3 separate regions of the Homo sapiens genome follow, and all the other regions are linked to region 1. Evidence: fine-mapped expression QTL. A gene starts in region 1. Each other region holds a variant in brackets. All regions are shown on one strand. Distances are from middle to middle. Region 1 holds the start of COASY (Coenzyme A synthase). Region 2 overlaps STAT3 (signal transducer and activator of transcription 3). Region 3 has its middle 12 kb from the start of ETV4.

The links. PIP is the estimated chance that this variant, and not a neighbour inherited with it, causes the effect. A credible set is the group of variants that fine-mapping cannot tell apart.
Region 2: its variant is the best candidate, but not a certain one, in a credible set for the expression of COASY in whole blood (Lepik 2017, PIP 0.61).
Region 3: its variant is the best candidate, but not a certain one, in a credible set for the expression of COASY in whole blood (TOPMed, PIP 0.68).

The regions. Positions count from the first base shown.
Region 1 is chr17:42,558,289-42,566,493 of GRCh38, reverse strand. COASY (Coenzyme A synthase) reads right to left here and starts at 4,346. Exons shown (of 9, transcript NM_025233.7): 1 at 3,172-4,346; 2 at 2,319-2,533; 3 at 1,917-2,048; 4 at 1,596-1,785; 5 at 1,447-1,511; 6 at 1,183-1,267; 7 at 926-1,023; 8 at 689-835; 9 at 217-588. The coding sequence starts at 3,871. The coding sequence ends at 526. RefSeq lists enhancers at 129-635, 636-1,142, 3,821-4,010, 4,021-4,270.
Region 2 is chr17:42,365,949-42,374,153 of GRCh38, reverse strand. The region is part of intron 1 of STAT3 (signal transducer and activator of transcription 3); the gene reads left to right. Among named protein-coding and RNA genes, the nearest start is that of STAT3, 18 kb to the left of the region's middle. The variant A/G (reference allele first, on the strand shown) is at 4,014.
Region 3 is chr17:43,553,912-43,562,116 of GRCh38, reverse strand. No RefSeq gene overlaps it. Among named protein-coding and RNA genes, the nearest start is that of ETV4, 12 kb to the right of the region's middle. RefSeq lists enhancers at 5,472-5,541, 6,969-7,469. The variant C/T (reference allele first, on the strand shown) is at 4,687.

The sequences.
Region 1 (8,205 bases):
ACACGGCAGTACCTAGAAAGTCTACACCTTACTCAGAAGAACACAGCTGGTCAGTGGGAGGGCCAAAGCTCGCCTCTGGCTAGCCTCAAAGGCCATTCTCTTAACCACTGCATTGCCCAGGCTTCCAGCTCAGGCCTGGGCCCTGCACTTGTGGCTTAAGGATCCCAAAGATACTTAGGGGCATTGGAACAGGAAGCAGACACCATACAAGCAACATCTCAGAACATTCACCTTTAATTCTGTTACAGGTTCCAGTATTTGCGCTGGCCCTAGTCAGCTGTGGGTAAGAGTCACCCATGGGCAAGAGTGGGGAGGGGACTGCTCCCCCATGAACCACATCCTCAGTGTTGGCCAAATACCAGCGTGTTGGGTAGGCTTCCTGTGTCCACCAGGCCTGGCCATGTCCTGCACAGTATAGCTTGGACCTCTGGGCCTGAACCAGGGTGAGCATCAAGGCCCCCATTTCTCCTCACCACGGGGTCGCTTGTCAGCTCCAGGAGCCAGTCTGGCCCCACTGAGAACTTTTCAGTCGAGGGCCTGATGAGTCTTGGGAATGCGCTTCTGCAAGAGGGCCCAGGCTTTCTCCACCTTCAGACAGGCCAGGATGTTGGGAGGAAGAGAGGGCAGGGTCAGGCAGTACCCACTGGAGACTCCTTCCCCACAACCCGGCCTTGCCCTGGGCACCAACCTGGCGTTGGGTGATATGCGGCTCCCACAAGGTGCTGAGCACCACGTGGCTCTGTTCCACAAGCTGCTGCCCGCTCATCTGGCTCTGCAGCCGGCTTTGAGCCGCGGCTTCACTGAGGCCATCCCTCTCCACAATGCGTCTTACAGCCTGAGCACAGACGAGACATTTGTCAGGAAGAATTCCAGCTCACAGGATAGGATCTGCAGTAGGGATGGTGTGGGGGGTGGGGCGAGATACCTCAGTCTCTGGGATGACAGCAGTCCACACCTCATGGACCAGGTTCTGCCAGCCGGCTTCAAGCAACACAGCGGCATCAATCACACACACACGCTTTCCTGTGGGGAGACCCCAGTCACCGCCAGCAGTGCCGACGTTCTCCCAGGCAGAACACAGTCCCAGGGTGAACAGACAGTCCCACGTTGGGCAGGGAAGCTCCCAGGGGAAGAAACAGCTTAACTGTCCCCTTAGCTGTTGCCATCCTCCCTCCCACTCACCCTCAGCCACAGCCCGATCCATCTCCTCTCGGGCCAGCTTTGCGATAATTGGCCACATAATGTCCGTGAGTATCTTCAGCTGCTTCTGGGGAGGGGAACAGAGGGCAGAGGTTACCTTCTCTAGAAGAGGCAGCCAGCCCGAGCAAGGTGGTGTTGGGAACAGATCAATGGAAATGGCATTCTGGGCCAGACCAGAGAGGTCCACTGGACCCTGACCCCTGGGTCTAGTAGCGGCTTAGGAGCCCTTAGGAAGTTATTGTTTACCTTATTCCCAAACACCCGGCTGCCTAGGACCTTCCTGTTGATGATGCCATCTTTATGGAGAATATCTGGACAACACAGACAGACAACTGAGCACAGAGGCCTGGCTAGCTCCTCACTCCAGGCCACTTTCAGCCTTCCCCAGTTATTACCTGTTCCAAAGGCCTCCACCACAGGCTGGTAGGCAGGGCCACCTGGGGCATAGGCCCGATGACCCAGGTGGTCACTGTCAATGACAAACGCCCCCAGGCCCTTCAGTCGCTGAGCTATTGAGCTCTTCCCAGAGCCACTGATGCCAGTCAGCCCAATTACATAGAGACATGTGGGGAGCTCTGGCCTTTCCTGGGGATAGGTGAAAGGGAACCCACAGTTACTGGGGCCCTCAGCCTCATGCCTGGGGCTGAGCCCCTCAGCTTCTACTCTCCAGCATTGCCAGGACACCAAGCAGGAGGGAAGGAGGGAGAGGAGCTTACATATGGAGGCCGAAGCAGGTTCCCCAACATTCGCTGGCGGAAGCTGGAGGAGCTGACTTTGTCCTCTTCATTCTCTGTATGTCTGAGGTCCTTCAGCAGCTGGATCTGGTACAAAGCAAGTTCCTCCAGGTCCTGGGGTAAAGAGGAAAGGGTAAAAAGAGGGAAGGAGGGAGTGAGAGGAAGACCCTGACATCCAACCTGCCCCCCCATCCTCCCCTTCCTACCCAGGCTCCTCCTCCTCCGACTCAGCGGGCAAACTGAGAACCAGTTCCTCCTTGCTTCTTCCCACCACCCTGAGCCCCCACTTCTCTCCTCTGGGGCCATGGTACTTCCAACAGCCCCCTCAAAATGGCCTTCCCCGTCCCCCATCCACTCCCTCTGCCAGTCTCCCTCAGGGGTTACATTCTCAAGGCGGAAGCGGTTGATGGCCATCCCCCCACGATAGGTCTCCTCGCTGACCACCAGGAACTCCAGGGAGGGGTCAGAGCCAGCGGGCCCATAGGGGTCCAGCAGGGGGATGACATCAAAAGTCAAGGAGGGCTTGATGTCCACCAGGAATTCACTCAGATGTTCCACACGTTCTGTATAAGGTTGGAGCAGCTCAGGGAGCAACTTGCCTGGGGAAGGAGCCCAGAAGAACAGTGAGATCTTTTTATTGGGGAGGAGAGTATGGGCCAGTTTGGGAAAAAGTGTCCCTAAGTACAGTATCCCCAGAGGGGGTGGCAGAAAGGGTTCAACTGGTAAGGCCTATGGTGATGGTGAGGGGAGCATGAAGGTGAAGAAACAGGCAAGCACAATAGTCACTCCAAGGGCTGGCATGTGTCCAGAGAATAAGCCACCAGGAAACCACTCCAGAGAACGAGCAGTGCCAGAGGGCATCAGAGGCAGATGGAAAATTCCAAGACCCATGCCATGCTTGAGTTTCCTCCTCCTGTCTGTGGCACTGCTACCTGCAGCTCACTCACCCATTCATTCCCAGTGTCTCATTAGGGTGTATCACCTGGAAAACTTGCTAAAATGCAGATCCCTTTGCTTCACATTTGGGGTATTCTGATTGAGTGGTGACTGGACCACATGCTGAGAAAGCTGTTCATTTGACAAAATGGCCTTAGCACCAATTGAGTGTCAACCACTGTGACATTTGGGAAGGGTGGGAAGTAATGAATGGCCCTACCCTTCCTTGATCTCGGCATAAGGGTCGGGGGTGGGGAGATTTGGGGATCCTCCACCCTAGTCCAGGGTCCCTCTTACTCACTCTTCAACAGATCTTTGTCTGCTACTCCCACCACAAGCTGCTCCTGGGCCAGGATGCACGCGACACTGAGCAACACCTTGTGGGCGTTGTGCAGGCGGTCAAACGTGCCACCGACAGCGCCACGGTAGTAGCCACGCACCGGCTGCTTTGGAGACCCGGCCACGGGGGAAGCTGGCCTGATCGTGGAGGGTAAGGGGACATCCAGGGGCTCCACGGGCACTTCTCCTATCCCATAATCGGAGTATAGCAGCACCGAGGCCAGTCGCGGACAACAGCTGTAACAGCTGGTGGCGTAACGCACTAGCTGCTGTTTGACCGGGTTGTACTGGCTTCCATCCAGGGTCTGGAAATCTGTCAACACGACTTCTGGCGGGTGGGCGAGATTCTGGACTGAGGTGGGCAGGGGAGGGAGAAAGGTGCTCTTGGTTCGGATATTGGTCAGTAGGATTCTGACGTCCAAGTGCCTGTGGACGTCGGCGCCAGCATAGAGGTGCGTGATGAAATCAAGAACCTCAAACGTGGCCTGCACGGGGCTGGACTGGGGCTGAGCCGGGCCCTCCAGGCTCATGCCCGGCTGCAGGTGAACATAGAGTGTGTGATTCACCAGCCGGGCCGCCGAGGTCAGGATGGAGGCCAGGCGAGGGGCTAGGGAGGCCAGCGGCGTCGTCAGCACCAGGAGACCCGACCGGAATACGGCCATGCTGCCCAGGCCTGCGGACAGTCAGGGAGACGAGGCGACGGTGACTGAAGGGCCTGCGGCCGAGGCAGAGGCCTGTATGGGACCTTGGACCCCAGAGAAGGAGGCCTGGAGCAGGGACGGGGTTTCAGTGCTGACCGACAGGAGCCGGGGGAGGGGACGGGGCCTGGTAGACGGCGCCTCGGGGCTGTGCTCTAAGCCTTGGTGTCCTCATTTCTCAGACGGGGCGGTGACTTCGCTGAACTGAGTCGAAATCCTGGGAGGGGGAAACTGGACAGGAACCCTTGTCACAGGGCTGGGGATCCAAAAATCCTGGGCCCTCTTGCTAAGCTGCACCAGGGTCTTCAAGGAATCGAAGAGGGAGGCTAAAGGGGGACGCTAAAGCTCACGTCGGCCCCCTACTCACTGAAACCTCAAGGCTTGGGTTCCACTTGCACCACCGCGGAGGCTTCCCTGGCTGCAACCCGGAAGCACTAACGGAGAAACCGCAACTCGGAACTACGGAAACGGAGGAAGGTCAAACGTCTCGACTTCGCTTCAGCGCGGGATTCTCGCGAGATTTCCAGTGGCATGGGCTGTGTCCTGCTGATGGGGTGGGGCTGATCCCGAAGGCTCTGGGAGTGGGTGAAGCCTTGATGCCGATCGGACCCCCGCTGGGACCGGGCGGAGAAAGGCAAGGCAGGTTTCAAAGCCCATTTCACAGATTCCCTTCTGGCCTGATGAGGAGAGATTAGTTTCAGCCAGGCCACCCAAGAGGCATCGGCAAAGCCAGAACTAACACCCAGATTTCCTTCATTCCAGGGACAGAGGTGGGGAATCACAGGGCTGCGCTGTATTAGCCCTCCTAGTACCCTCTCAGTCCGAGGATTCTCACATGGGAGGCTACTGGACAGGTCTGTCCACGTACCCATTTCACAGATGGAAAAACTGAGGCCTTGTGTGTACCTGGCTGCTGTAGGAGGCTCTCGCACCACCCAGATCCTCTGATGCGCTTGTTTGCGGGGTCTCTGTGGACAGGAGAAAAAGGCAAAGGCTGATTGGGCGCGGTGGCTCACGCCTGTAATCCCAGCACTTTGGGATGCCGAGGTGGGCAGAGCATCTGAGGTCGGGAGTTCGAGACCAACCTGACCAATATGGAGAAACCTTGTCTCTACTAAAAATACAAAATTAGACGAGCGTGGTGGCGCATGGCTGTAATCCCAGCTACTCAGGAGGCTGAGGCAGGAGAATCGCCTGAACCCGTGGGCGGAGGTCGCGGTGAGCCAAGATTGTGCCATTGCACTCCAACCTGGGCAACAAGAGCGAAACTCCCGGCCGGGCGCGGTGGCTGACGCCTGTAATCCCAGCACTTTGGGAGGCCGAGGCGGGCGGATCACGAGGTCAGGAGATCGAGACCATCCTGGCTAACACGGTGAAACCCCGTCTCTACTAAAAATACAAAAAAAAATTAGCCGGGCATGGTGGCAGACGCCTGTAGTCCCAGCTACTCGGGAGGCTGAGGCAGGAGAATGGCGTGAACCCGGGAGGAAGAGCTTGCAGTGAGCCGAGATCGCACCACTACACTCCAGCCTGGGTGACAGAGTGAGACTCCGTCTCAAAAAAAAAAAAAAAAAAAAAAAAGCGAAACTCCCTCTGGAAAAAAAAAAAGAAAAAAGAAAAAGGCAAAGGCTGGATACCTAGTGTGGGAGATTTACTGCGAAGCTAATGGGCGCTTGAAAGGCTGAGTGTGGAGGGGAAGCCAGGTTGCTATTAGAATACATCTCAGGTAAGTTGTGCATGGAGATCAAAAGGGAGAGAAGCCAGTCTCCAAGATTCCAGTAATGTGCCGTGGTATCCGAAACTTAAAAAAAAAAACAAAACTCACTTTTATATGTAATTTTGTGTTTATCTTTTGTATTCTTGAAGACGGTCTCCAAAAGCAAATAAGCCCCCAGCCCCACAAAACCTGGGCTTATGATGGAGAAAAGGAGATGCTATTTTAGATAAGGTGATTCAGGAAAACAGCAAAGACCTGGAGGAAGAGATACAGTCAAGGAGGGAAGAGTTGTAGAGCCACAAAGGTATTAAGGGACCAGGCTTCTCACAGGAGACATGTTAGATTTAAAGATAGGGTCTGATTTGAAGACACAAACAGCAAAGGCTGCCAGAGAATGTCCCAAGACATCTGGACACACAGTCTGACACACCACATACAGAGTCATTTTTATTGAGTAAATGTGTATTTTACTGCCTCCCACAGGGATGGACCAGTGAACAAAACAATGTCCCTGCCATCCTGGGGTATAGAGTACTGTGTGTCTTGGGGTTGCAGACAGGAATCATGCCACCATAAATAAATCTATAATACATGGCCAGGCGCGGTGGCTCACGCCTGTAATCCCAGCACTTTGGGAAGCTGAGGCAGGCAGATCACCTGAGGTCAGGAGTTCAAGACTAGCCTGGCCAACATAGTGAAACCCCGTCTCTACTAAAAATACAAAAAATTAGCTGGGTGTGGTGGCGGTACTTGTGATTCCAGCTACTCAGGAGGCTGAGGCAGGAGAATCGCTTGAACCTGGGAGGCAGAGATTGCAATGAGCCGAGATCACGCCACTGCACTCCAGCCTGGGTGACAGAGAGACTCCGTCTCCAAAAAAAATAAAAATTAAATTAAAAAACCCAAATCCATAATATATCTACTGGTGATAAAGGATAAGAACAAAAGTAAAGCAGAGTAAGGGAGCTATAGTGGAGAAGCTGAGAGGCTATTTTAGATAAGGTGGTTCAGGAAAACAGCAAAAATCTGAAGGAAGACATAGAATCAGAGATCAGGGAATGTGACCCAGAGGGGGCCAAGTACAAAGGCCCTGAGGCAGGAGGGCTGAACTGGGTGATGTAGATGGAGATTGGTGGGAGATGAGATCAGAAAGGGGGCAGGAACCAGATCAAAGAAGGTCTTGGAGAGCTTTGGGGAGAACCTTGGTGCTATGGTTCGAATGTCCCTGCCACAACTCATGTTGAAATAAAAAATTCAATTGCTACTGTCTTAAGAGATGGGACTTTTTTTCTCTTTGAGACAGGGTCTCACTCTTGTCCCCCAGGCTGGAGTGCAGTGGGTTGATCATGGCTCACAGCAGCCTCAACTGCCTGGGCTCAAGCAGTCCTCTGCCTTGGCCTCCTGAGCAGCTGGAACTACAGATGTGTGCCACCACACCTGGCTAATTAAAAAAAAAATTTTTTTTTTCATACAGACAGGATCTTGCTGTGTTGCCTGGGCTGGTTTCCAACTCCTGAACTCAAGCAGTCCTCCCACTTCAGCCTCCCAAAGTGTTGGGATTACAGGCCTGAGCCACTGCACTGGGCAGGGTGGGGCCTTTAAGAGGTAATTAGGTCAGCTGGGCGAGGTGGCTCACTCCTGTAATCTCAGCACTTTGGGAAGCCAAAGTGGTGGATCTCAGGTGGATCACCTGAGATCAGGAGTTTGCGACCAGCCCAACCAACGTGGTGAAACCCCGTCTCTACTAAAAGTACAAAAATTAGCGGGGTGTGGTGGCATGCGCCTAAAATCCCAGCTTCTCAAGAGGCCGAGGCAGGAGAAAAAAAAAAAAGATAATTAGATCATGAGGGCTCTGCCCTCTTGAATAGATAAATACTGTTATCATGGGAGTGGCTCCTGATGGATGGACGACATTTGGCCCAATTTCGTGTCTCTCATTTGCTTCCACCTTCTGCCCTTCCATCCTGGGACAGCCCTTTGCCAGATACTGCATGAAGTTCTTGCACTTTCCAGCCCCTAAAACTGTGAAGCTCTGAGCAAAATAAACTTTGCTTCTTTTGTTTTGTTTTAAGACAGAGTCTCACTGTCACCCAGGTTGGAGTGCAACGGCATGATCTCGGCTCACTGCAACCTCTGCCTCCCAGGTTCAAGTGATTCTCCTGCTTCAGCCTCCTGAGTAGCTGGGATTACAGGCACCCACCACCACGCCCAGCTAATTTTTCTATTTTTAGTAGAGACAGGCTTTCACCAGGTTGGCCAGGCTGGTCTTGAACTCCTGACCTCAGGTGATCCACCCGCCTCGGCCTCCCAAAGTGCTGGGATTAAAGACATGAGCCACCGCACCCGGCCGAGTCTCACTCTTTACCCAGGCTGGAGTGCAGTGGAGAAATCTCAGCTCACTGCAACCTTCGTCTCCCGGGTTCAAGCGATTCTCCTGCCTCAGCCTCCCGAGTAGCTGGGATTACAGGCACAAACTACCACGCCCAGCTAATTTTTGTATTTTTAGTAGAGACGGGGTTTTACCATGTTGGCCAGGCTGGTCTCGAACTCCTGATCTCAAGTGATTCACCGGCCTTGGGCT
Region 2 (8,205 bases), 190 kb after region 1:
ATTTCCTTAACCTTCTCTTGTGTGGGAGCTGAAGGACAAAATGAGATATTCTCTGAAGAGTGGTTACATCATGCAAAACTATGATGTGTAATGAGGTCACTTAGTTTTCTAAGTACATTATACATTTTGATAAGATTTTCATAGAAAAGCTTGTCTCCTTGGGGAGATCACTCATCTTCCATCTTGACTATTATTTAAACTTTATGGGTCAGATTTATCTTTTTAAAAACTTAACCATAAAGCTCAATTAATTTTTTTTTTTTTTTTTTGAGACGGAGTCTCGCTCTGTTGCCCAGGCTGGAGTGTAGTGGCGCGATCTCGGCTCACTGCAAGCTCTGCCTCCCAGGTTCATGCCATTCTCCTGCCTCAGCCTCCTGACTAGATGGGACTACAGGCGCCCGCCACGATGCCCGGCTAATTTTTTGTATTTTTAGTAGAGACGGGGTTTCACCGTGTTAGGATGGTCTCGATCTCCTGACCTCGTGATCCACCCGCCTCGGCCTCCCAAAGTGCTGGGATTACAAGCGTGAGCCACCGCGCCCGGCTCAATTAATATATTTTAAAAATTAATAGACTTTATTATTTTTATTTTATTTTATTTTTGAGGCAGAGTCTCGCTCTGTCACCCAGGCTGAGTGCAGTGGTGTGATCTTGGCTCACTGCAAACTCCACCTCCCGGGCTCAAGTGATTCTCCTGCCTCAGCCTCCTAAGTAGCTAGGATTACAGGTGCCTGCCACCATACCCGGCTAGTTTTTGTAATTTTAGTAGATACGTGTTTTCTTTCTTTTCTTTTCTTTTTTTTGAGATGGAGTTTCACTCTTTTTGCCCAGGCTGGAGTGCAATGGCATGATCTCGGCTCACTGCAACCTCCGCCTCCCAGGTTCAAGTGATTCTCCTGCCTCAGCCTCCCAAGTAGCTGAGATTATAGTTGTCTGCCACCACGCCTGGCTAATTTTTTGTATGTTTGATAGAGACAGGGTTTCACTATGTTAGCCAGGATGTCTCGATCTCTTGACCTCGTGATCCGCCTGCCTTGGCCTCCCAAAGTGCTGGGATTACAGGCGTGAGCCACTGCGGCCAGTCTAGACTTTATTTTTTAAAGCAGTGTTAGTTTTACAGAAAAATTATGTGGAAAGTACAGAGAGTTTCCATATACCCCTTACTTTCTCCCACAACTTCTATTATTAACATCTTGCATTAGTATAGTACGTCCCTTACAACTAATGAACCAACTCGATACATTATTATTAACCAAATTCCTGAGTTTATTTTATTTCTATTTTTATTTTATTATTATTATTTTTTAGAGGTAGGGTCTCACTGTGTTGTCCAGGCCAGGTTGCAGTGGCATCATCATAGCTTGCTATAGCCTGAAACTCCTGGGCTCAAGCAATCCTCCTGCCTCAGTCTCCCAAAGTGTTGGAATTACAGGTGTGAGCCACTCTGTCCAGCCTGAAGTCCATAGTTTACATTACATTTCACTCTGTTGAGCATTCTATGGATTTTGACAAATGTGTGATGATGTATATTTGCCAGTACACAATTATATAAAATAGTTTTACTGCCCTAGAAACCCCCTGTGCTCCACCTATTCATTCCTCTGCTGAACCACTGGCAACCACTGATCTTTTATAATATCTCCATAGTTTTGTCTTTTCCAGAATGTCATATAGTTGGACATACAGTGTGTAGCCTTTTCAGATTGGCTTCTTTCAGTAAATGATATGCATTTCAGGTTTCTTCATGTTTTTTTGTGGCTTGATAGGTTGTTTCTTTTCATTGGTGAGTAATACTCTATTGTATGGATATACCACATGTTGTTTATCAAACATTCACCTGAAGGATAGACATCTTGGTTGCTTCCAAGTTTGAGCAGTTATGAATAAAGCTGCTATAAACATTCCAGTGCAGGACTTTTCACCTCCTCTGGATAAATATCAAGGAGTGCAATTGCTAGATCATATGGTAAGAGTATGTTTAGTTTTGTAAGAAGCTATCAAACTATATTCAAAGTGACTGTACCATTATACATTCCCATCAGCAGTGAGTGAGAGTTCCTGTTACTCCACATCTTCACCAGCATTTAGTGGTGTCAGTGTTTTGGATTTTAGCCATTTTAATGGGTGTATAATGGTATACCTATTAAAATTGGTTTTTTTTGGAGACAGAGTTTCACAGTTTCACTCTTGTTGCCCTGGCTGGAGTGCAATGGCGCAATCTCGGCTCACTGCAGCCTCCGCCTCCCAGTTTCAAGTGATTCTCCTGCCTCAGCCTCCCAAGTAGCTGGGATTACAGGTGCACGCCACCATGTTCTGCTAATTTTTTTGTATTTTAGTAGAGATGGGGTTTCACTGTGTTACCCAGGCTGGTCTTGAACTCCTGAGCTCAGGTAATCCACCTGCCTCAGCTTCCCAAAGTGTTAGGATTACAGGCATGAGCCACCGCACCTGGCCTCAATTTTTTTTTTTTTTTTTTTGAGACAGAGTTTTGCTCCTGTTGACCAGGCTGGAGTGCAGTGGCACAATCTCGGCTCACTGCAACCTCCGCCTCCTGAGTTCAAGCGATTCTCCTGCCACAGCCTCCTGAGTAGCTGGGATTATAGGCGCCCGCCACTACGCCTGGCTAATTTTTTTTTTTTTTTTAATTAGAGACGAGGTTTCTCCATGTTGGTCAGGCTGGTCTTGAACTCCCCGTTCTCAGGTGATCCGCCTGCCTCAGCCTCCCAAAGTGCTGAGATTACAGGTGTGAGCCACCGTGCCCCGCCTGTTTTGGCTTTTACTGTGAAGACGTGTTAGCCGCTGTGATGACTAGCAAGTGTGGCCCTCCACCCAGTCGCTCTGGGCTCCCAGCTCCTGCATCCTGCTGCAAACTTGACATCTTCCCTCAAGTAACTTGTAGTTGTCTCCTGTCTACTTGCCCAAAATATAACTCTTAAACTTTTCTCTCTGCAAGTTTGTGCCTCTCTCCCTGTCTGACTTCCCCATCTAAATAAATGGTAGACCACCATCTACTCCTTTGTGCAAGCCAGAAATCTAGGAATCATCCTTAAATTCCCTGTTCTGTCTTATCTCTGCTTTCATTCAAAGCATCAGCAAATCCTGTTGGTTCTACCTCTGAAGTTTTCTCAAATACTGTTACTTGACTCATCCTGACTTTTGTTTCTGCTTTATGTTAGGCTAAATGCCCTGAAAACTCTTTTGTACAAAACACCTAGAAATACTGGATAAACTGGGCTTAACAGGGAGGCCCGGTGTGGTGGCTCACGCCTGTAATCCCAGAACTTTGGGAGGCCAAGGTGGGTGGATCACCTGAGGTCAGGAGTTCCAGACCAGCCTGGCCAATACGTAGTGAAACCCCACCTCTACTAAAAAAAAAAAAAAAAATTAGCTGGGTGTTGTGGTGCACACCTGTAGGTGGTGCATGCTTGAACTTGGGAGGCGGAGGTTGCAGCGAGCTGAGATCGCGCCACTGCACTTCAGCCTGGGTGACAGAGCAGGATTCTGTCTCTTAAAAAAAAAAACAAAAAAAGAAAAACAGGAAAATCTTCAGAAGCAAAAACCAAACAATCTCACCAAAGAAATGAGAAGATGGCTGGGCGCGGTGGCTCACGCCTGTAATCCCAGCACTTTGGGAGGCCGAGGCGGGCAGATCACCCGAGATGGGCAGATCACCCGAGGTCAGGAATTCGAGACCAGCCTGGCCAATATGGTGAAACCCCGTCTCTGCTAAAAATACAAAAATTAGCCAGGTGTGGTGGCAGGCGCCTGTAATCCCAGCTACTCAGGAGGCTGAGGCAGGAGAATCGCTTGAACCTGGGAGGCGGAGGTTGCAGTGAGCCGAGATCATGCCACTGTACTCTAGCCTGGACGACAGAGCAAGACTCTGTCTCAAAAAAAAAAAAGGCTGGGTGTGGTGGCTCATGCCTATAATCCTAGCACTTTGGGAGGCCAAGGTGGGCGGATCACTTGAGGCCAGGTGAACATGGCGAAACCCCATCTCTACTAAAAATACT[A/G]AAGTTAGCTGGGCATGGTGGTGGGTGCCTGTAATCCCAGCTACTCGGGAGGCGAGGCAGGAGAATCGCTTGAACCAGGAGGTGGAGGTTACAGTGAACCGAGATCTCGCCACCGCACTCTAGTCTGGGCGACAGAGCAAGACTCCGTCTCAAAAAACAACAACAAAAAACCAACACATGGCCAAAGTGCAGTGACTTACATCTGTATAATCCCAATGTTTTGGGAGGCTGAGGCAGGAGGATCGCTTGAGTCCAGGAATTTGAGACCAGCCTGGGCAACATAGACCTCATCACCAAAAAAAAAATATTTTTTAATTAGCTGGGTTTGGCAGCATGTACCTGTAGTCCTAGCTACTCAGGAGGCTGAGGTGGGAGGATCACTTAGGCCCAGGAGTTTGATAGTTCGAGGTTATAGTGAGCTATGATCCTGCCACTGCACTCCAGCCTGGGCCACAGAGTGAGACCCTGTCTCTTAGAAACAAAACAAAACAAAAAAAAGAAACTGAATTAAAAACAACAAGAACAAAAATGCTGCTTTTTGTTATTGAGTTGTAGCCCAAGTTTCTTGAGGGTAAAGCATTGAAAAGCAGGCAGTAATAGATTTGCTGTTTAAAGAGATTTACTTGCAGCACTATTCACAATAGCAAAGACATGGAATCAACCTAAATGCCCATCAGTGACAAATTGGATAAAGAAAATGTGGTACATACACTGTGGAATACTATGCAGCCATAAAAAACAACGAGATCATGTTTTTGTTTGTTTGTTTGTTTGTTTGTTTTTGAGATGGAGTCTTGCTCTATTGCCCAGGCTGGAATGCAGGTGGCACGATTTCAGCTCACTGCAACCTCCGCCTCCCAGGTTCAAGCAATTCTCTGCCTCAGCCTCCCGAGTAGCTGGGATTACAGGTGCCCTCCACCATGCCTGGCTAATTTTTGTATTTCTAGTAGAGATGGGGTTTCACCGTGTTGGGCAGGCTGTTCTTGAACTCCTGACCTCATGATCCTCCCACCTCGGCCTCCCAAAGTGCCGGGATTACGTGTGAGCCACCGTGCTCGGCTGAGATCATGTTTTTGCAGGAACATGGATGGAGCTGGAGGCTATTATCCTTAGCAAAGTAATGCAGGAACAGAAAACCGAAGACCACGTGTTCTCACTTATAAGTGGGAGCTAAATGATAAGGACTTGTGAACACAAAGAAGGAAACCACAGATACTGGGGTTTACTTGAGGGTGGAGAGTGGGAGGAGGGAGAGGAACAGAAAAGATAACTATTGGGTATTGGGCTTAATACTTAATATTTTATCAAAATAAGCTGTACAACAAACCCCTCTGACATGAGTTTACCTATATAACAAACTTGCACGTGTAACCCCAAACCTAAAATAAAAGTTAAAAAAAAAAAAAAAGGCTGGTTGCATTGGGAGGCTGAGGCAGGCAGAGCACTTGAGGCCAGGAATTCGAGACCAGCTTGGCTAACGTGGAGAAACCCTGTCTCTACTAAAAATTCAAAAATTAGCCAGGTGTGGTGGTGCATGCCTGCAGTCCCAGCTACCAGGGAGGCTGAGGCAGGAGAATTGCTTGAACTCAGGAGGCAGAGGTTGCAGTGAGCTGAGATTGCACCACTGCATTCCAGCCTGGGCGACAGGGCGAGACCTTGTCTCAAAAAACAAAACAAAACAAAACAAAAACCTGTCACTTTGGGAATATCTCAAACCTAGTCATCCAAGTGGTTGTACGATTTTAGTGTCTGCATATCAATATTTAGTGTGATCTACTTTCTTAGATTCTCAAATACTGCCAATGGGCACATGTCATGAAATAATGTCTTTTAGAGGACAAGAGAGTGCTAAAGTCTCATTATTGCAGTTTAAGAAAAACAATTCTGTAACAGTTTAACTTTATAGGAAATGCCTTTTGTTTATTTATTTTTTTTCTTTTGAGGCTTAGATTTTTATTTTTATGTTTTTAGAGATGGGGTCTTCCTATGTTACCCAGGCTGGCCTTGAATTCCTGGGCTCAAGTGATCTTCCTGCTTCAGCCTCCTGAGTAGCTGGGACTAGACGTCCACTACTGCTCCTGGCTGGAAGTTTAGATTTTAATTTAAACTCTTCTATTGGGAAACTTTGTATGTTTGCTTTACCACTTAACATTTGCATGCATTATTGTACCTATTGTCTCCTACTTAAGGAAGGGCAGTTTATGCTGTTATATGAAGTGAATTAACCTCCTATGGTACTTCAGTTTTCTCTATGCTAAAAGTGTGTTCTAGATTTTTGAAAAACTTACTTAATTTTCATTCATTTATTCAAATATTTGAGCATTCTGTAGTTGCTGGGGAAATAGCAGTGAACTGAAGAATGTCTTTGTTCTTATGGGGCTTAAGTTCCTAGTTGATCATATTGGAAGGAGATACATGAAAAAAGAAATATATGAACAATGGAGGGCGATGAGTACTGTAAAGGAGAATTCAGCAGGGGAGATGTTGCTGTTTTAGATAGAGGGGTGTCAAGAGACATTGTGCAGAGACCTGAACGAAGTGAGGGAGCAAGCCATGGAGATATCTAGGGAAAGAGCCTATCAGGTGGAGAGAAGAGTCCTAGGGCAGAAACGGGCAAGGTGTGTTCCAGGAGCAGAGAGGGGACAGCTGTGAGCAAGGGGAGAGTTGTAGGGAAGGAGGCAAAGAGAGACATCTGGGGCAAAATGGATTGACTGGTGGGCCGTGGTAGGACTTTGGATTTTTTCCTGAGTGGGTTTTGAGCAGGGGAATGAAATGATCTGACTCTGGTTTTTTTTTTTTTTGGAGACAAAATCTTGCTCTGTTGCCGAGGCTGAAGTGCAGTGGCGCAATCTCGGCTCATTGCAACATCTACTTCCTGGGTTCAAGCTATGCTCCTGCCTCAGCCTCCCGAGTAGCTAGGATTACAGGCTTGGGCCACCATGCCGGCGAATTTCTGTTTTTATTTTTATTTTTTATTTATTTTTATGTTTATGTTTTTTGAGACGGAGTCTCGCTGTGTCACCCAGGCTGGAGTGCAGTGGCGCGATCTCAGCTCACTGCAACCTCTGCCTCCCCGGTTCAAGCAACTTCTCCTGCCTCAGCCTCCCGAGTAGCTGAGATTACAGGCGCCTGCCACTACACCTGGCTAATTTTTGTATTTTTAGTAGAAACGGGATTTCACCTTGTTGGCCAGGCTGGTCTCGAACTCCTGACCTTAATTTATCTGCTCGCCTTGGCCTCCCAAAGTGCTGGGATGACAGGTTTGAGCCACCGTGCCAGCCAGGACTCTTATTTTGAAAGGATCTGTAATGTGGAGAATAGAAGGTAGAGGGACAAGGATGAAAGCATCCAGGCCAGTTAGCCTAGTCCAGCTATCTAGGTAAGAGATGCTGGTGGCCTGGATTAAGGCTGCGTCAGTGGGAGGTTGTGAGAAAGGCTCACCTTCCTTTTTTTTTTTTTTTTTTTTTTTTGAGACAGGATCTTACTCTGTCTCCCAGGCTGGAGTGCAGTGGTGCAATCTCAGCTTACTACAACCTCCGCCTCCTGGGCTCAAGTGATACCCCCACCTCAGCCTCCCAAGTAGCTGGGATCACAGGCTTGCGCCACTATATCCGGCTAATTTTTGTATATTTCGTAGAGACAGGGTTTTGCCATGTTGCCTAGGCTGGTCTCAAACTCCTGAGCTCAAGTGATCCACCCGCCTCAGCCTCCTAAAGTGCTGGGATTATAGGCCTGAGCCATTGTGCCCGGTCACTTCCAGATTTTGAAGACAGAGCCAACAGGATTTGTTAATGGATTAGGTGTGGCAGGAGGAGGGGGAGGAAGAGAGAGAGAGACTGGAGTTGAAGTTAAGGCTCATTTCAAGGTTTTTAGCCTCAACATGTGCAGGAATGGAGTTGTCACTTGCTAGAATGGGGGAGACTGGAGGAGAAGCCGGCTGGGAGAGGTTTTTAATGAAGGGGTTGGCTTTGGATACATTAAGTTTGACATGCATTTTAGACATCCAGGTGGAGATATTGAAGAGGCAGTTGGCTATAAGTGTCTGATGTTCATATTAGCGGATGGGGCTAGAGACATAAATTTGAGAATTGTCAGTGTATAAACGTTGTTTTGAAAGAAAGTGGGGCTGAATAATTTAGAAAGGAGTGCATAGAGAAAATAAGTTTACTATTAAAATAGCTTTAACAGGCCG
Region 3 (8,205 bases), 1.0 Mb before region 1:
AAATCCCTGGGACACTCAGAGCACACCTCTGCTGGAGAGAGATCTGATTTGCAGGGTTGCTGGCCTGAGCTTACTCATTGACTCCCCTTGCTATTCACTAGCTCTGTGACTTTGGGAAACTTTCTTTTCTTTCTTTTTTTTTTTTTTTTTTTTGAGAAGGAGTTTCGCTCTTGTTGCCCAGGCTGAAGTGCAATGGTGCCATCTCAGCTCACCACAACCTCCGCCTCCCAGGTTCAAGCGATTCTTCTGCCTCAGCCTCCCGAGTAGCTGGGACTATAAGCATGCGCCACCACGCCTGGCGAATTTTGTATTTTTAGTAGAGACAGGGTTTCTCCATGTTGGCCAGGATGGTCTCGAACTCCTGACCTCAGTTTATTCACCCACCTCGGCCTCCCAAAGTGCTGGGATTACAGGCGTGAGCCACTGCGCCCAGACACTTAGAAACTTTCTAACAGAGAAGTTAGAAAGAAACTTCTCTACGCTGTACACATATATGATGTGGAATAAATGAGTAGCACATGCAAAACATTTAGCCTGGCACATGATGAACGATGAAAGATTTGCTGTTGTTCTTGACTGTCGTTGACCCTGTATTCTCATCTCCTAACACAGTGCCTGGCATGTAGCAATTGCTCAATAAATGAATAAAATGGAAATAATTACTAACTACCTCCTCCCTCTACCCCAGCCCCAGGAATATTCCTGTTTGGAACCCTAGTTGAAACCCCAGGTATAACACCTATTTGCAGTTTCCATTACCCTGGTATTTCCACTGGAAGGCAGGGGCCCAAGGGTTCTGTCTAAATTAAGGCCCTATCCTCCTCCTCACCTGACCCCAAAGGTTCGGCCACAGAGGGCATCTTGAATCAACAGCCACTAGGCATAGAGAAGCCAGAGCTTCACCACCAGCAATCCCTTTCTTTCTTAACTTCCTTTCTCTGACTTTAGCTGTCATCTCTGTTATCAGGAACTAGGATTCCTCAACTGAGCCTCTGCCTCCTTGCCCTGCGCCTCTGGACATGGGTGTCTGGGTCAGACCTCAGGTCTCCTGTTTTCAGTCCATTGAATCTACTGATACACTAGACAGAAGTTCACAGGCATTCAAGCTCCAACTGCCATTCTTGGCTGTGTGAGTCAGGCAAGTCACTTAACCTTTCTGAGCCTCCAGGTTTTGGTACAATAATATAGAGGGCTGGGTGAGACTCCATGGTGCAAAGCTGCACAGAGACGATTCTGTTGGGCTCCCTTCCCTGTAGCAGCGGCCTGCCCTGGGAGAGGGAATAGAGCAGGGTCAAAGCTGAATGACTTGAGGTCTCCAGAGTTTGAGATCCTGAGGGGACCAGCGAAGAGGGGTGGGCTACAGAGCCCTGGAGAAGTGAGTGACTTGGAGGCATGAGCAGACACCCTCCTACCATGGGACAAGCAGGGCACTAGGAGTGTGACTCAAAGCTGCCGTGGTTCTCCCTCACATGCAGTTGCTGAAATTGGGTTGGGCAAAAAGAACAACTCACTCCCCCAGCCCTGTCTGAGCAGAGAAAGTAAGCTTTGTAACTCCCAGAGGGGGGCCAGCAGGACCCAAGGTCACAAATGCCCCCTTCCTCTACCCCCAGGAGACCCACATATACCAGTGATCCCTCTGCACGAGGTCATGGTTCTGAAGTCTCCATCCTCAGTAGAGAGCAGCAGAGACCAAGTGAGGGTCTAGCACCTAGAATGATGGAACTTCCAGGACAAGCCAGCACTAAGCAGGGCAGGAACTCAGAGCCTCTGTGGGCTAGAACGGGAACACCTCCAGGAGTGGCTTCCTCTGCCCTCCTGTTGATATGTACCTATCCTGGGTTGCCTTTAGTGCTTAAACCTCAGTTATGAAAAATGTTATTATTATAACAGCACAGTGCCACCTCCCACCCACCTCCCCGACTAAACAGGAAGTGTCTGGCAGGTAGAGGCCTGTTTTGCACCCCTGTGGACAAACCCCTTCCCCCAGCACCCACTCACTCATTCCTTCACTCACAAACATTTATTAAGCACTGATGTAGTTGCCAGGAGGCCTAAGGCTTATCCTTTAGGGATGTCAGCTGCTAAATCTCCAGAACTTTGGCCTCCCAGGTTCCCAAAGGTAAAATTTCCTCCACTCCATCCCAGAAGGGAGGATGGGGTCCAGCTAGGACCTCTAAGGAGAAGCCACCAGCTTCATGCTTGCAAAGGAAAACCACTTCCCCCTTTTTCTTTCCTCAGTTCCAGGGGTGTGATGGCCCCATGGAAAATTCACAGGCAGGTCTTGGAATCTCTACCAGGGAGATAGCCCAGGCTCCACTCAGGGAAAGCCTTGCCACCGAGACCAGGCCTGCATCCAGGAAAACGTGTCCAAGGCCACTGATGTACAAAAGCTTAGGCAACCAGACACTCTGACCTACCAGGGCCTCTCACGCTAGCCTGGAATTACTCTCAGCTTCGTGGCCAGCCGGCAAAGACATCAGGCCTGGGGCCACAGAGCCAAGATTCCAAAGAGAAAATTCCAAGGCAAATATCTCAAGGGTTTCCAAGGACTATCTCCCCACTTCCCAAAACTCCCTTCCACCGCACCCTAGAGTCTTCCCCCTCCCCTAATTTAACCTTGTGCTTCCCAGACTCCTGCCCTTGGTCCTGATATTCCCTAAGCCCGGAATATCCTCCCTCTAGCCCCACACCCAAATCCTACCCACCTCAATGCTAGCTCCAATGCCACCTCCTCCAAGAAGTCTTCTCTGATCCTCTCAGTGAGGAGGGTCTCTATCTCTCCTTTAAATACCAAAGTCCAGGCCTCTTCTGTGGCTGTGGACAGGTATTTGGCTTCTGAAAGCAAACAAGCCTGGGTTCACAGGCTAGCTCTACCCCTTCCCAGCAGGGCAACCTTAGGCAAGTTCCCTTCCTGCTTCCTGCTGGGCTGCCCTTGCCCCTGCCTTGCCCAGAGACACTTGACCACCTCCCTTGGGCTGCCCAACCTTCAACGTGGATTCCTAGTATTTGTGAATTAGGTTCTCTGCCTGCGAACTTTTTCTGTTCAGGGCCAGAGAGTAAATATTTTAGGCTTTTCAAGCCATACTGTGGCTCTTGCAAATATTAAACTGTCCTGTTGTAACACAAAGCAACCTAAAATAGTAAGTAAGCATGGCTGTGTCCTAATAAAACTATCTCTGCACACTAAAATTTGAATTTGTCGGCCAGGAGCAGTGGCTCATTCCTGTGATCCTAGCACTTTGGGAAGCCAAGGCAGGCGGATTGCCTGAACACGAGTTGGAGACCAGCCTGGGTAATGTGGCAAAACCCCATCTCTACTAAAAATACAAAAAATTAGCCAGGCGTGGTGGCATGCACCTGTAGTCCCAGCTTCTCAGGAGACTGAGGCATAAGAATCGCTTGAACCCGGGAGGCAGAGGTTGTAGTGAGCTGAGATCACGCCAATGCACTCCAGCCTGGGTGACAGAGTGAAACTCCAAAAAGAAAAAAAAATGAATTTCTCATATATTCACATGTCAAAAAATATTGTGTTTAAAAAATGTTTTTTCAGTCATTGAAAAAAAGCACTTTGTAGCTTACAGGCCATACATGTCCTTCCATATCTCTCCTGAGAGCACTCCTTGGCTGTGAACTCAGTTCCAGAGGCTGAACAAAGCTACTCCCTCTGATTCAGCTTCAGCAGGGAGTTTGCAAAGCCCTGACTGTTCCAGGGGCAGGCTTGGGTGCCACAGGGAGCACAGAAGTGAGGCACCCAGCCTGCTCTCTAGGAACTTCTAATCCAGTGGGGAGACTCAAGCCAGATCCACAGTGGGGAGACTCAAGCCAGATCCACAGAGGATTTCATAGTAACACAAGGTTGGGGAAGATGAGCATCATGAAAGAGACCTTATCTTTTCCAATGAACAAATACTTTCTTTTTTTTTTTTTTTTTTTTTTTTTTTTGAGACAGAGTCTCGCTCTGTCACCCAGGCTGGAGTGCAGTGGTGCGATCTCGGCTCACTGCAAGCTCCGCCTCCCGGGTTCACTTCATTCTCCTGCCTCAGCCTCCCAAGTAGCTGGGACTACAGGCATCTGCCACCACGCCTGGCTAATTTTTTGTATTTTTTTTTTAGTAGAGACAGGGTTTCACTGTGTTAGCCAGGATGGTCTCTATCTCCTGACCTAGTGATCCTCCTGCCTTGGCCTCCCAAAGTGCTGGGATTACAGGCATGAGCCACCATGCCCGACCAACAAATACTTTCTTCACAACTTACATTGACAAAGCTGAAGGAGAGCGCTGGTTCCCTGGGAGAAGAAATGCACCAGGAGAGACTTCATGGAGGAAATGGCATTAGACATGGGCTTAAAAGAACAGGAATTCCGGCCGGGCGCAGTGGCTCATGCCTGTAATCCCAACACTTTGGGAGGCCAAGGTGGGTATATCATGAGGTCAAGAGCTAGAGACCATCCTGGCCAACACGGTGAAACCCCGTCTCTACTAAAAATACAAAAATTAGCCGGGTGTGGTGGCGGGCGCCTGTAGTCCCAGCTACTCGGGAGGCTGAGGCAGGAGAATCACTTGAACCCAGGAGGCAGAGGTTGCAGTGAGCCGAGATTGCGCCACTGCACTCCTGCCCGGCAATAGAGTGAGACTTCACCTCAAAAAAAAAAAAAAGAAAAAAAGAATAGGAATTCCAGGACCGAAGC[C/T]GTCACCCTTCACTGTTTCCTCCTGAAAGGCAGCCCCTGACTTTTGCACAAAAACATTGAAGACTTATAGCCCCACACACCTATAATGCCATCACGAGATGGCGGGCTCCTTGGGCAGGGGCAAGGGCCTTCCTCATTTCTGAGCCTCTGGACATTTTTCTGAGCCTAGCACATGTTTTTTTGCAGAGTGTATTTCTGTAAATGCTTGTTGAGACTGTATTGAAGTTGGAGTTAGGGGAGATGATGACAAAGAAGATTCCTGATAGAAATTGGACCAAATGAGGTCGGGCGTGGTGGCTCACGCCTGTAATCCCAGCACTTTGGAAGGCCGAGGCAGGCGGATCACTTGAGGTCAGAAGTTCGAGACCAGCCTGGCCAACATGGTGAAATCCCTTCTCTACTAAAAATACCAAAATTAACTAGGCCTGGTGGTGTGTGCCTGTAATCCCAGCTACTTGGGAGGTTGAGGCAGGAGAATCACTTGAACCCAGGAGGCAGAGGTTGTAATGAGCTGAGATCCCGCCACTGAACTCCAGCCTGGGCAACAGAGTGAGTTTCTGTCTCAAAAAAAAAAAAAAAAATCAATTGGACCAAATGGATTAGGTCATTCCCTCCATTTTATCCAGCTCCTCAGGCCCTGAAAGACATTTCCCAAGGAACAAGCCAACTGTCTTGGGCACAACCTTAGACCACCTTAAAGGGGACTCCTCATTCTCACTTCTTACCACAACCTTCTGACTTCTTAAAAATAAGATGTGAAACAGTGATTACTATAACCTGCACGCGTGTGTGTGTGCATGCACACAGACACACACTCACCCTTCCCTCTTCTGACAGCCTCCTTCTGCCTCTTTAAGTGGAAGCTCCACTTCTCTGCCCAGGAAGGTGGGGCCTTTTCTCCCAATAGCCACTGCAGACTGGGCCCCGAGGAACTCAAAGCCACCTCCCCACAGAACCCAAATGAGTGCAGCCAGCACCACCTCGTAAATCAGAAAGGTCATTGCCTCTAACCTGGCACGCCCCAAACCATGACTAAGCAGTTGTTGATACTTCCCCAAGACAACATCATGCAGGAGAAGTTTTGTAACCAAAGGGGAAGGAATTAATTAATGTATGTATGTGAGGTATGAATTGGTTTGGATATACATGTATGGATCGTCTCACCAAGGATACACCAGAAACTGAACATAATGGCTGCCTCCAGGAAGGCAAACTGAGCTGCTAGAGGACAGAGAGAGGAGAGATTTAAAAATTTCACTGGCGAGTACTACATTAGTTTTGAATTTTGTGCCATGTGGGTTTTTTTTTTTTTTTTTTTTTTTTTTTTTGAGACGGAGTCACTCTGTTGCCCAGGCTGGAGTGCAGTGGTGTGATCTCAGCTCACTGCAAGCTCCTCCTCCTGGTTCGTGCCATTCTCTTACCTCAGCCTCCCGAGTAGCTGGGACTACAGGCGCGCGCCACCATGCCCAGCTAATTTTTTTGTATTTTTGGTAGAGACGGGGTTTCACCGTGTTAGCCAGGATGGTCTCAATCTCCTGACCTCGTGATCCGCCCGCCTCGACCTCCCAAAGTGCTGGGATTACAGGCGTGAGCCACCGCGCCTGGCCGCTATGTGGATATCTTATCTATTCAAATAAATAAATGTTTTACAACATGCACAATGTTGTCTTAAGCAAATGCACAATGTTGTTTTAAGCAAATGCAACCTAAAATGTGGATTCAATAGCTTGTTTTCAACTCTGCAGGCACAGCTGGGACAATAAAAGCAGAGATCTGGTTACTACCTTGTAGAAGGACAGAGGGGAAAACAGAGAACCAAATGCCATTTAAAATCTCACCAGGCCGGGCGTGGTGGCTCACACCTGTAATTCCAGCACTTTGGGAAGCTGAGGCGGGTGGATCACCTGAGGTCAGGAGTTCAAGACCAGTCTGACCAACATGGTGAAACCCTGACTCTACTAAAAATACAAAAATTAGCCCAGTGTAGTGGCTCATGCCTGTAATCCCAGCTACTCGGGAGGCTGAGGAAGGAGAATCACTTGAACCTGGGAGGTGGAGGTTGCAGTGAGCCGAGATTGCACCACTGCACTCCAGCCTGGGCCACAAGAGTGAAACTCCATCTCAAAAATAAATACATAAAATATAATAAAATCTCACCAAATGATCATGCCAAACAAGGATCCTGCCTGGGAAAAGACGGGAGTCAGAGAAGCCAGAGGGAGAGAATTGACAGAAAATAAACAGTACCCCCTGGGGAGGTGAGGAAGGGGAGCTCCAGAGGCCCATCCCCCCTCCCAGCATGAGTTTGCATGGGGAGGGGGAAGACATTAAAAGAGAGAGGAGTCGGAGCCTGGTGACTCCCACCCTGTGATGCACAGAAGTTGAAGCCAGAGAGAGAAGGTGGTGCGCAGGAAAACAAGCCGCAGTGCCTGGCTCCACCTCAGCCACTCACGCATCCCCGGCACTTCCCCAATCTGAGACTCAGTTTCTTTGTCTCTACAATGAAGGATTTGGCCCAGACAGATCTCCAAGGTGCCTCACAGCTCTAATATTCTCTGATTTGATGGCTGCAGCCTTCTGCAAATGTGCATAAAATAGATTAGTTTTAGTAGTAGTAAAAACAAAACTGAATATCAGATTTATCATTTTAATTAAATATACTTTACATTCTCAATTTCTAGGGAGCAAAATGCTCCCCCCTCCATCAGTTTTCCCTTTGTGGAAGACATTCATGTGTGACATGCAATTTAAGAAAATGCCAAACCACATTGTAAGATACACAATTAACAAGATCCTAACAGGCATTTCTTAACAGGAAAGTGGGGTTTGGTGGGGTGGGGGAAGAACATAAAAAGGAAATGTCAAGAAGGGGAGGGTCAGGTGGGATCAGGATCCCAGAGAACTGGGGATCAGGCTAGAAAGAACAACGTGCTATTGTCTTTACTCAGCCCTCAGAAGTCACTATCTCTGGAACTCCGTGGAGCTGGGGAGTCTGAAGCGGGTGGTTTGGTTGGTTCCCTCTCCCTGGGTGACATAAAGCAAATTACTCTCTGGACTTTAGAGTGCTCAACTATAAAATGGAACTAAATATACCTACTTTGAGGAATGCTGGGAAAATGTAATAAGATATCTTAAAAGGCTTAGTAAAACAATAAAGTGTAAAGCGCATATACAAACACTGTACTTTTTTTTTTTTTTTTTGAGACGGAGTTTTGCTCTTGTTGCCCAGGCTGGAGTGCAATGATGTGATCTCGGCTCACTGCAACCTCTGCCTCCTGGGTTCAAGCAATTCTCTTGCCTCAGCCTCCCAAGTAGCTGGGATTATAGGTATGCACCACTACGCCTGGCTAATTTTGTATTTTTAGTAGAGGCAGGGTTTTGCCATACTCAAATGATCCATCTGCCTCTGCCTCCCAAAGTGCTGAGATTACAGGCGTGAGCCACTGCGCCCGGCCCAAACACTGTATTTTGGAAACTCAAGTTGGGGTCCAGAATGCCTGGTCCCCCTCTGGTTAGGTA